Homo sapiens: one gene and its partners. The protein of the gene in region 1 purifies or fractionates together with the protein of each later gene. This does not show direct contact. Each region holds a gene or a part of one and is shown in the gene's direction. Other genes may lie near its edges. The genes, in order: GLTP, STARD7 and AMD1.

Region 1 (3,748 bases):
CTTTGTTACCTTAAGGCTTTTGCTCATGTGCCTCACACCCCAAGTCTTTTTTTTTTTTTTTTTTTAGACGGAGTCTCGCTCGCTCTGGCTGGAGTGCAATGGCACGGTCTTGGCTCACTGCAACCTCCACCTCCCTGGTTCAAGCAATTCTCCCTGCCTCAGCCTCCTGAGTAGCTGGGATTACAGGCTCCTGCCACCACACCCAGCTAACTTTTGTATTTGTTAGTAGAGATGGGGTTTCACCATGTTGGCCAGACTCACACCCCAAGTCTTTGACCTGGCTCTATCCTACTTCTCCTCTAGGTCTCAGCTCAAATATCACCTCTTCAGAGGTACTGCTCCCAAACCCCTACATCCGATCTCAGCCAACAGGCTTCAGTCATCCTCCGTCACTACACTGTTTTATTTTCTTCACATACTCATCAGTGTCTGAAGTTGTCTTACCAATTTGTGTATTGCATTGTGTTGTGTTCCCAACCAGATTGTCAGCTCCACAAGGGCAGGGATTTTGCTGTATCATTCACTTTATCCTCAGTGCCCAGTGCAGTGCATGACACATAGTGGTGGAGGGTGGGGGAGGGGTGGGAAGGATGGCAAATGTTTATTCTGGAATGAATAAGAGGCTCTCAACAATGGTGTGTTAGATTTTTGCATAAGCTGGGCATTGGGTTTAGGACATAAGCATCTAGGTGGGTTGTGGCTGAGATGACTTGTGATTCAAGGTGTGAGAAGCTGGACCCTGGGCTGTTGGAGAGACATTAGGTTTGGGAAACAAGTGTCCAGGTTGTGGGTGAATTGGTATAAACTGGGCTGGCTCCAGCTGTTACCAGTAGAAGGTGTCCAGGTACTTGGCATCTTGGAGAAAACACACAAACGAAGCAAGGAAAGCAAAAGCAAGGATTTACTGAGAACGAAAAGTCCACCCCACAGTTTGGGAGCAGGCTTGAGCGTAGAGGCTCAAGAGCTCTGCTTACAGAATTTTCTAGGGTCTCAATACTCTAGAGGTTTCCCATTGGTTACTTGGTGAATATTCTATGTAAATGAAGAGAATGAAGTGAAGTCACAGAGTCATTTACTCAGAATGTGCCCTATTGCAAATGGAGAGGATGTGCAAATGGAGAGGATGTTACTTGGTGGGAGAGGATGAATGTGAAGTTACAAAGTATAAATGGAGAGGATGTTTCTTGGAGTGTGTGGTCTGTGTAAATGGAGAGGATGAATGTGAAGTTACAAAGTGTAAAGGGCGTGAATGGAGAGGATGAAGTGAAGTTGCAAAGCCGTTTACATTCCTGTCATTGCTAAGGTGCTTTTTGATTTAGGTCTAGGAAGTCAGCCTTATGTTCCCTGCCTCCAGGCCCTATTTTTCTGCCTCACAACAGGTAACATCAGACTGTTGAGGGCAGACTGGACCCCAGATTTCGGGAAGCAGGAGTTGTCCAGCAGGGCAGTGGCTGAGTTAGACTGTGACTTCAGCAGTGTTCAACAGGTATAAGGTCATTGAAGACCAAGAATCAAGCAATCGAGCGTCCTCGTCGGTTGTAGCGAAAGAGAACCGTGACCAACAGGAGAGCAGTGTCCACCCAGGTCACTTGGGGTTACTGGGGTACAATTTTGGGGGAAACGGGGGTCCTGGGGAGCGTTGGCTGGGTGGGGCTGTAACCCGAGCTGGTGGGCGGGTTGTGAGCTGTGACCTGGCCCGAGTCGGCCCGCCCGGATTGGGGGGCCAAACCGGGGGCGGCGGGAGGCACACCTGGGGAAGACTCACCTGGGAGCGGCTCACTTGGGCCCTCCGGGACCCATGAACCGGCGCACCTCCTCTGCGTCCCGCCCCCGGCCGGCCCCCCGGCCAATGGGGGCGCGGAGACCTCGGCGGCGGGCGCGGATTGGGAGCCGGTGAGCGGGGGCGGGGCGGCGCGCCCGGCAGTTTAGGCGCTCGGCCGGCGGGCGGCGCTGAGCGCTCGGCTACGAGGGCGCCGTGCGGGCGGAAGTGGCGACGCTGGCGTCCCCGGAGCCTGCGGCGGGCGGCTGTGACGGCCCCGGCGCTGACGGCGGCGGCCGGGGGGGCGGTGTCGACGCCCGCGGCGCCGGCTGGGGCATCACCGCGGGCCTCGACCCCGAAATGGCGCTGCTGGCCGAACACTTGCTGAAGCCGCTGCCCGCGGACAAGCAGATCGAGACCGGGCCCTTCCTCGAGGCGGTGTCCCACCTGCCGCCCTTCTTCGGTGAGCCGGAATGGAGGGGGGAGGCGGCCCGCAGCCCCACGCGCACCCGAATCCTCCTTCCCCCGAGCATCCCCTAACCATCTCTGCCCTAGACACCCCTAAGTACTGTTTCCCCAGGCACCCAAGATCCTCTTTCCCTCCACTCACCCTAAATTCTCCCTTTCCCGGACCACTCCCAAGTCCTCTCCGCTCTAAACATGTCACATCCTGCCTGTCCTCCCCAAATCCTCCCTCTCCCTAGACACCTCACAGTCCTACATATCCCCCAAATGCCCCCTGATCATCCGTGCCCCCAACACGGATGATCTTCCATCTCCCTTAGGCATTCTGTAATCCACCATCTCCCCCAAAGCCTCCTGCCCCTTCTTCCCCAAAGTCCTTCATCCCTGGCGCTTTCTGATGGCTCTCAACTCGCTCCCCTTACAATGAATCCCCCCATTTCATAAGCCTTCTCTTTGAACGCTTCCAGCCTCTCCCTCATGGGACCTACAAACCCTTCCTTCTTCCCTCAGAATTCGCCCATTCCAGATCAAAGACTCCCATCTCCCCCTCCAAGGGTAGGAAGCCTGGTGAGGCGGGGACAAGGAGAGGGTTTTGAAGATGGAGTTGCAAAATTCCAGGGCCTCTTTCTAGGGGAAACCACCTAAAGTTTTTCCTCCTTTTAGGACAGGGGTGAGGGTTGTCGGGGGAGCTGTTTTGTGAGGTGACATCAGACATACAGAGCTTGGCACCAATTCCTCCCTCAGTTTGGGCTCTACGAGAGGAAGCCCCTCCCCTGTATGTCGTGTGGAAGTTCCTGGGCGCATTGGGAAGGCGGTCCACTTTCAGACCCTCTTCCCGCACTCCCTCAGCCTAGCCCAGTCCAGCCAAGGCCCCAGATGGAAAATGGGAACTAGAAGCCAGCACCACTGCCCCTGCCCTTTGCCTTTTGGGTCCCGGGTAAAGGGTGCAACCTGAGCCTCTATTCTCCTTCTCCATGTGGGCTCTGTCCTGTCCTGCTGGTTCACTTGGTGGCCTTGCAGGAAAATACCAGCCCCCAGGGCAGAGTCCACCTGAAACCCAAAGACAGGAGATCTTAAGACAGTCCGACTTAGTGGGCAAAGAAGGCTTGTTAGGGGTGGTAGTTCCCACAGTGTCCTGAGCTCTGGGATGGTTGTGGTTACCTGGAGGCTATAGTTCCCCTCCTTCACCTCGTGAGCCTCAGTGTCCCCAGCTGTGAAACGGGGATGCTGATCTCCTAGGGCAGCTGTGAGGAGTCGATGAGGTGGTGTGTGTAAAGTACCGAGGCCGTAAGTGCCAAATAGGTCTTCGCTGTAGGGGGTGTGGTTTTAAGTTCCTGAATCCAGTTTTGGTTCCTTGCTAGAGTGATTAATCGGTGTTTGAGGGAGTGCAATTGTCTGGTGTGTATGATTCCCAGACCTGGGTAAGCAACCTGAGAGCAAGGGCTTGGTTTTTTACATCCACTCTGTGTCCTCAGTGCCCAGAACAGTGCCTGGCACATAGCAGATGCTCAGTCAATACTGCTG
Region 2 (3,748 bases), on another chromosome or scaffold:
TAATTAAAATTTGATCATGTTGTTCATCTTGAGGATTTTTTTTCTTTTTAAAATATTTGTTAATGTGATAGGAAGGCAAATATGCTATTCAACAACTACATCTTGGTTGCACAGTGGTTCCTTAGGTCTTTGTTTTGATAGCTTGTCATGTTTATATTTTATTAAAATATTCTGGGTACAGATTAACTTATTTGCTTTGTGTTTAAGTATTCTATTTGCTTGAAAGTAGGCACTGCTGAGGTTGTCATAGCTAGCTTAGAACATCTTGGATTTCGTTTGTTCTAGTGAGATGATTTTTGGGTAGCTTCCATAATGGAGCACAGTTGGAGTGTGTCTCAAGTGCATTTCTTTCATTGTTAATGGAAAAAGAGCATGATTGTCACATGGCCCCTAAATCACAGCCTTTGGCTCATCTGTGCTGATTCTGTACCAACTTGTCCTGGCACAAACTAATTCTAACATAGCTGTTTTGGTTAAGCGGGTGGAATGTGCAGGGTGTCTTTTTGAATGTGTGCCTTAAAGTGGCATGTGTTTTCCTTATGTTATTTGAGTCCTATTCAGAATGACAAAGCATAACTTGTCTTCTCGTCTTTTGTGCTTAAGAACATCTTACCAAATAGCGTCTTATTAATCAAGCAACAGCAAGAAAATTTGAGAAGTGATTTTGACTGGCTGCTGTGGCCAGATGTAGAAATCAGATCTTTTAATACTTGCTCTAGTACCCAGTTGTCTTAAATTAAACAACGAAAATATCTTGGGATTGCTGTTTTTGGTGCTAGCTGGCATTCTGTGATTCCAGGGCAAATCTAATGGAAAAATACAGTAGTCATGTTTTTGATTGCTTTGGAACAGTTAAAAAGAAAAGTTACAGGAACAAAGAGAGGAAGGATGTTAAGAAATGAAAGGCTAGGGGAAAATGTTCCATTAACCTCCTCATAGTTTTTTAAAAGTTACAGTTCATTGCTCCAGAAATTTGAGTAAATAAGTGCCATTAAAGTTGCATAAAGAAAATTGGCCATTTTCTCTTTTCTGTCTTTCAGGGCATTCGGGATATGTTAAACTTCAGTGTGTTATTGACTAGATAAATGATCCGCATAAAGTCCTTTTGCCTTAAAGGAACTTTTTTTTTTTTTTTTGGCCATTGTCACTTCAGGGTATCTTACTGGTAAACCCTTAAACCCCTTGTTAGATCTTCAGAGCTACATAAAATTAGATCTCAATTTTTTGAGGTTGTCTTCATTATTTTACCATTAACTAGTTGCCCTAGAACTGCAATGAGCTAATTGATGTCCTGTCCTGTCCTGTCCTCCCCTTCCCTCCCGCCCCCTTCCGGGACAGAGTCTCACCCTGTCGCCCAGGCTGGAGTGCATTGGCATGATCTCGGCTCACTGCAACCTCCGCCTCCCAGGTTCAAGCGATTCTCCTGCCTCAGCCTCCACTGAGTAGCTGGATTACAGGTGCTTGCCACCACACCCGGCTAATTTTTTGTATCCTTAGTAGAGATGGGGTTTCACCATGTTGGACAGGCTGGTCTCCAGCTCTTGACCTCGTGATCCGCCTGTCTCGGCCTCCCAAAGAGTTGGGATTACAGGCATGAGACATCACGCCCAGACTCTTTTTTTTCTTAAGACATAATCTCACTCTGTCGCCCAGGCTGGAGTGCAGTGGTGTGATCTCACCTCACCGCAGCCTCCGCCTCCCTGGTTCCAGCTATTCTCGTGCCTCAGCCTTGCCAGTGGCTGGGTCTACAGCGGGGGTGCCACCACGCCTGTTTAATTTTTGTATTTTTAGTGGAGACGGGGATTCACCATGTTGGCCAGGCTGGTCTCGAACTCCTGCTCCTGACCTCAAACAGTCCTCACGCCTTGGCCTTCCAAAGTGCTGAGAGCCAGGCGCCTGGCTCTATGTCTTTTTTTGGGGGGTATGGAGTCTTGTTCTGTTGCCTAGGCTGGAGTGCAGCGGTGTGATCTGGGCTTACTGAAGCATCCACCTCCTGGTTTCAAGCAGTTCTCCTGCCTCAGCCTCTCAAGTAGCTGGGACTACAGGCATGCCCCACCACGCCCACCTAATTTTGTGTGTTTATTTTTAGAAGAGAAGGTTTCACTGTGTTGGCCAGGCTGATCTCCAACTCCTGATCTCAAGTGATCCGCCTGCCTTGGCCTCCCAAAGTGCTGGGATTACAGGCATAAGCCACTGCGCCTGACTCCTATGTCTTTTATTTCTAGGTGTGTCCCGTATCAGTAGAACCTGACTTTGACAATAACTTGGAATTTGAAGAGGAGGAGAATTATGTGAAGTGAGGCTGTTGTCTGACTGAAATTCCTAATTGTAGGGATGGTTTCATTTAAGTAATTTTGGAGCCTTACACCAAGCTCCATGCTGAGGGCAGGACCCCTAGATGAACCAAATGTTGTTTCACTTACTTTGTTTTCATGGTTTGTTTGCTTTCAGTTTCTATAGCTTTCGGTCCAGCCTTTTTCAGATATTGAAATGATTTTCGTTTTGGAGAAAGAAAGGCATGGTCTCTCTTTTCTTGATCCTTTTTCTAATCTGCTGATTTTACTATTTTGGGAATAATCTCTTTTGTCCTTCTGTCCTCTCTTAAGTCTCTTAAGATGTGAAGGTTTAGCCACCCATCCCATCCAAACAAGATTGGGCACAGCAGCCTAAAGAGATGTGTCATGAGAGGTTTTCCTTTTCTCCACATATATGTTAGTGAATGACTTTGTGCTCCTGTATGTTAATTGGGTCTTGTCATGTTAGCATTTAGAAGTTCAGACCCTTCAGGGATTCCTAAACCTTGGGAAAAAATAACTTGATCATTTACATTTTCGTGAAGCAGTCTTGCTCTATCATTCATACTGTGTCTCCACAAGACATTTCCGTCCCTTTTCATAATTTTAGTCAAAGCCACCTAGTAACCTTTAATTATATAGGAGAGCTTGATTAAGCAGTGGGTCAGATGCTCTGAACCACCTTGATTCTTAGAAGGTCATGAAAAAATGTTGCCTATAGTTAATAATTTTCTTAAAACTTTATTAACTATGTAATTATTTTATGAGCCTCTGATGTTTTAGTACGACATTCCACCAGTGGAAACATGCTCCCCTTTATTATGTGGCAAGAATGATAATTCGGGCCAGGTGTTGTGGCATGTGCCTGTACTTGGGAGGCTGGAGGATCACTTGAGCCCAGGAATTTGAGGCCAGCTTGGGCAATGAAGAAAAAAATTTTTTTTAAAGAATGACACTCAAGAGTTGTGCTTAGTTATTGTTGAAGGATGCTTTATAGACCTCAAAAATGCTGTAATCGATGCCCTATGGTGCCTGATTGTTCTCTGAGCAAATCTAGCTATGGTTTTGCTTTTGCTCTTCTTCTGCAACATCTAAATGCCTATCCTAAGGTTCCTTCTCTGTTTCTCTATGGTTTTGCAGCTGGTCAGGGTTCTTGGTTGTAACAAAGAAACTGGTCTTGGTTAATTTAAGCCAAAAAGGAATTAATCAAAACGGTATTAGGTCACTCAGTATTGACAAGGCCAGGGTACAGGTTGACCAAGACCTGCAGCAGGAATAATCTACTTAGAGCAGTGTTGCTGGCATTCTTTCCCCCAGATTGGTTGTACTCCTGGACTCCCAGCTCCCTCAAGATCCTGTGCCTTTGTGTTATCTTCAAGATGCAAAGCCCCTTCTAGAAGTCTCTAACCTCACTTAAATTAGGAGCTGTGCTTTAACTGCTTGTGGGCGGGAGG
Region 3 (3,748 bases), on another chromosome or scaffold:
TGGCCACAACAGCCTTTAAAAAAAGAGAAAACAAAAATAAGAAAGGAAAAGACTGTTACACTGTTTAGTTCAGCCATGGAACGTGTTTAAAAGTCTTAATAGAAATGGTGAATATAACTGAGAAAGGGAGGGTGGGATTTGTTAGTGCGTCCAGTGGGTAAAAAGGAGTATGTGCAAGAATAAGTTATAGTGGGAAGTCAGTAGGTGATGACTTAAGCAGGTAGCATTATTGATGGACCTGAATTAGATAAGCTCTTTAAAAATCTGAAATTGTAATGTTTCTAATACTTAAATCATAGTGGATATTTTTATTTACCTTCATATTCAGGAATGGGAGTCTTAATAGTAGATAATTTTTGCAAGGATTTTGTAAATTTATCTTAGTCAAGTGAAGCAGGATTTCATTCCCACGAGTAGTTTGTTTATTTTTTTGAGATGGAGATTCACTTTTGTCGCCCAGGCTGGAATGCAGTGGTGCGATCTCGGCTCACTGCAATCTCCATCTCCCGCATTCAGTCTCCTGCCTCAGCCTCCAGAGTAGCTGGGATTATAGACGCCCACCACTACGCCCAGCTAATTTTTTGTGTTTTTAGTAGAGATGGGGTTTCACCATGTTGGCCAGGCTGGTCTCAAACTCCTGACCTCAGGTGATCCATGCGCCTCGGCTGCCCAAAGTGGTGGGATTACAGGCATGAGCCATTGTGCCTGGCCAAGTTTTTGTTGTTTTTGTTTTGTTTGTTTGTTTTTGAGACGGAGTCTCCCTCTGTTGCCCAGGCTGGTATGCAGTGGCAAGATCTCAGCTCACTGCAACCTCCACCTTCAGGGTTCAAGTGATTCTTCTGTCTCAGCCTCCCGAGTAGCTGGGATTACAGGCGTGTGCCACCACACAAGCCAGGGGTAATTTCAAGGGTTGTCACAGTATATATCCCACATATGTATTCTTTCCATATATGAACAAATTGTTAGCACCCTTTTTAAAGAACCTTAAAACTTTTTAGTAGCTCTTTTAAAAAAGTTGCTTAGTCATGTTATAGTCTAATACAGGAACTCAGCTCTGTAATCATTAGCAAGCCTTTCACATTAAAGATTTTTGGATGGGTATTGGTACGCAGATGGGTCAGTAACAGTTTCTTGTAGCAAAATGGTGAGACAGGCACAAAATTCTACCAGGCATGTTTGGTGTTGTGTTTGCTTTTTAATACAAACGAATAAAAACATTTTGCTGTTGGATTTCGCTCAAAAGGTCTTATCTGGTTAACAAAAGATTTGCCGGCTGGGCACGGTGGCTCATGCCTGTAATCCCAGCACTTTGGGAGGCCGAGGCAGGCGGATCACCTGAGGTCAGTAGTATGAGACCAGCCTGGCCAACATGGTGAAACCCTGTCGCCACTAAAAATACAAAAATTAGCCAGGTGTGGTGGCACGTGCCTGTAATCCCAGCTGCTTGGGAGGTGGAGGTTGCAGTGAGCAGAGATCATGCCACTGGACTCCAGCCTGGGTGACAGAGCAAGACTCAGTCTCAAAAAAAAAAAAAAAAAGATTTGCCATTTTTATGAGTGTAGAGCAATGGCCTGTCAGATATCATAAGGCTTAAAAATTTTTCTTCTTTTTTTAAAGACCAGGGTATTACTCTATCGCCCAGCCTGGTCTCAAACTCCTGAGCTTAAGCCATCCCAATCCCAAAGTGCTAGGATTACAGGCGATTCTCCTGCCTCAGCCTCAGCCTCCTGAGTAGCTGAGATTATAAGCACCTGCCACCACGCCCGGCTAATTTTTGTATTTTTAGTAGAAACAGGGTTTCACCATGTTGGTCAGGCTGGTCTCAAACTCCTGACCTCAAGTGATCCACCGCCTTGGCCTCCCAAAGTGCTGGGATTACAGGCGTGAACCACCACGCCTGGCCTAAAAAATATTTCTGGCAAACAGCTGGGCATGGTGGCACATGCCTGTGGTTCTAGCTACCTGAGAGACTAAGGCAAGAGAATTGCTTGAGCCTGGGAGGTCAAGGCCGAAGTGAGCTGTGATTGCACCACTGCACTTCAACCTGGGCGACAGAGTGAGACCCTGTCTCAAAAAATAATATCTGTCATGTTAAGCTGTTCCATGGAATTACATTGTCTTTTTATAATGGGCACACTAATGAAAGAATGAACACTTTCCTAATTCTATTCTCAGGCAAATTAAGACTAGTTTCTTCATGTCCATATGACCTTCATTGCTATGGTTGCTTGTACTGCACATTTCCTGTTAAACGGGCTTTCTCATTGCATTTGGAGAGCTGCGTAGTATTCCCAAAATCTTCTAGGTATGCTTGTAATTGGCAGTCATTCCAGTTTTTTGTGAGTGCTATAAGAGTAACATCACTCACTGTGTCCCGACAGACAGGCTTTTAAATTTCTATGCCAATTAGATTGGTAAAATTATGCTCTTCTTTTTTTTTAAGTGTTTCTTAAGGTTAAAAATCTGCACATTTTATAGACAAAGTATCCCATTGAATTTCTGTAATCATTGATTAGTTAATGGTTTACCTTGGTTTATGGACCTTTGAACATTTTTTTGCCTATTTTTCTTTAAGTAATTTGTAAATACATAGTATAATGACCAATTTTTGTTTCATATATAGCATAATATACCTATCATTTATCTGGGTGTGTCAATATAGATTATTTTGAAAGAAACTAAAAGTTGGTGTACAATATTAATTAAAAATGTGGTCTTCATGAGAAAAAGTGTGAGCTTTGTAATTTTTATGAGTAGGTGGGTACTATTGTGGATTAATCGTAACTTTTTTGTTAAATGATAGATCTGAGTGGGACATACTTTTGAAGGATGTGCAATGTTCAATCATAAGTGTGACAAAAACTGACAAGCAGGAAGCTTATGTACTCAGGTAAGTCCTGTAAAACAAGTGTTAGGTAGCTAATTTCAGTCCTAATCATAATGTGAAACAGTTAAGTTCCTCTCAGTTGTAGTTCTGGGGGTTTTTTTGTTTTGTTTTGTTTTTTTGAGACGGAGTTTCAGTCACCCAGGCTGGAGTGCAATGGCGCCATGTCAGCTCACTGCAACCTCCGCCTCCTTGGTTCAAGCAATTCTCCGGCCTAAGCCTCCTGAGGAGCTGGGATTACAGGCACCTTCCATCATGCCCGGCTAATTTTTGTATTTTTAGTAGAGACGGGGTTTCACCATGTTGGCCAGGCTGGTCTTGAACTCCTGACCTCAGGTGATCCATCCACCTCGGCCTCCCAAAGTGCTGGGATTATACACGTGAGCCACCGCGCCCAGCCTTTTTTTTACATTATTCTTAAAAATATGGTATAAAAGGAAACATTTAGTGTAACGTGGATGTTTCTAGGACATAGGTTTTGAAGCCTCACCGGACAGTTCAAGGTGTTTGCCGTCTTTTCCTCCCAATTGGTAAAGAAGGACCTCTTAATTAGAAGTTCAGGCAAAGGGAAAGTTAGCTTCTCTATACAAATACAGTTGTCTAATTGGTATATAAAAGCTCATCACCTTTTTTGTAGTTGCAGAGTTAATTTATTCCATAAATACTTTTAATGCTTATAGTATATATTGTGATGGGCCTTGCTGGGGGATACTGGACTAAACAGCCCCTCCCCCCCTTTTTTTTTCTGAGGCGGAGTCTCAGTCTGTCCAGGCTGGAGTGCATTGGCGCAATCTCCTCTCACTGCAACCTCTGCCGCCCAGGTTCAAGCGATTTTCTTGCCTCAGCCTCCCAAGTAGCTGGTAT

What was found.
Region 2: the proteins of GLTP (region 1) and STARD7 purify together in Homo sapiens (affinity purification with mass spectrometry; 2 studies listed by BioGRID and IntAct, with this or other methods). This does not show direct contact.
Region 3: the proteins of GLTP (region 1) and AMD1 purify together in Homo sapiens (affinity purification with mass spectrometry; 2 studies listed by BioGRID and IntAct, with this or other methods). This does not show direct contact.

Annotation. Positions count from the first base shown.
Region 1 is NC_000012.12:109,878,746-109,882,493, reverse strand, and holds the start of GLTP (glycolipid transfer protein), read left to right. Parts: upstream 1-1,952; 5' UTR 1,953-2,119; coding exon 2,120-2,222; intron 2,223-3,748. UniProt on the Homo sapiens protein: Accelerates the intermembrane transfer of various glycolipids. Catalyzes the transfer of various glycosphingolipids between membranes but does not catalyze the transfer of phospholipids. May be involved in the intracellular translocation of glucosylceramides.
Region 2 is NC_000002.12:96,202,138-96,205,885, reverse strand, and holds part of STARD7 (stAR-related lipid transfer protein 7, mitochondrial isoform 1 precursor), read left to right. Parts: intron 1-3,748. UniProt on the Homo sapiens protein: May play a protective role in mucosal tissues by preventing exaggerated allergic responses.
Region 3 is NC_000006.12:110,884,702-110,888,449, forward strand, and holds part of AMD1 (S-adenosylmethionine decarboxylase proenzyme), read left to right. Parts: intron 1-2,803; coding exon 2,804-2,890; intron 2,891-3,634; exon of another isoform or gene 3,635-3,705; intron 3,706-3,748.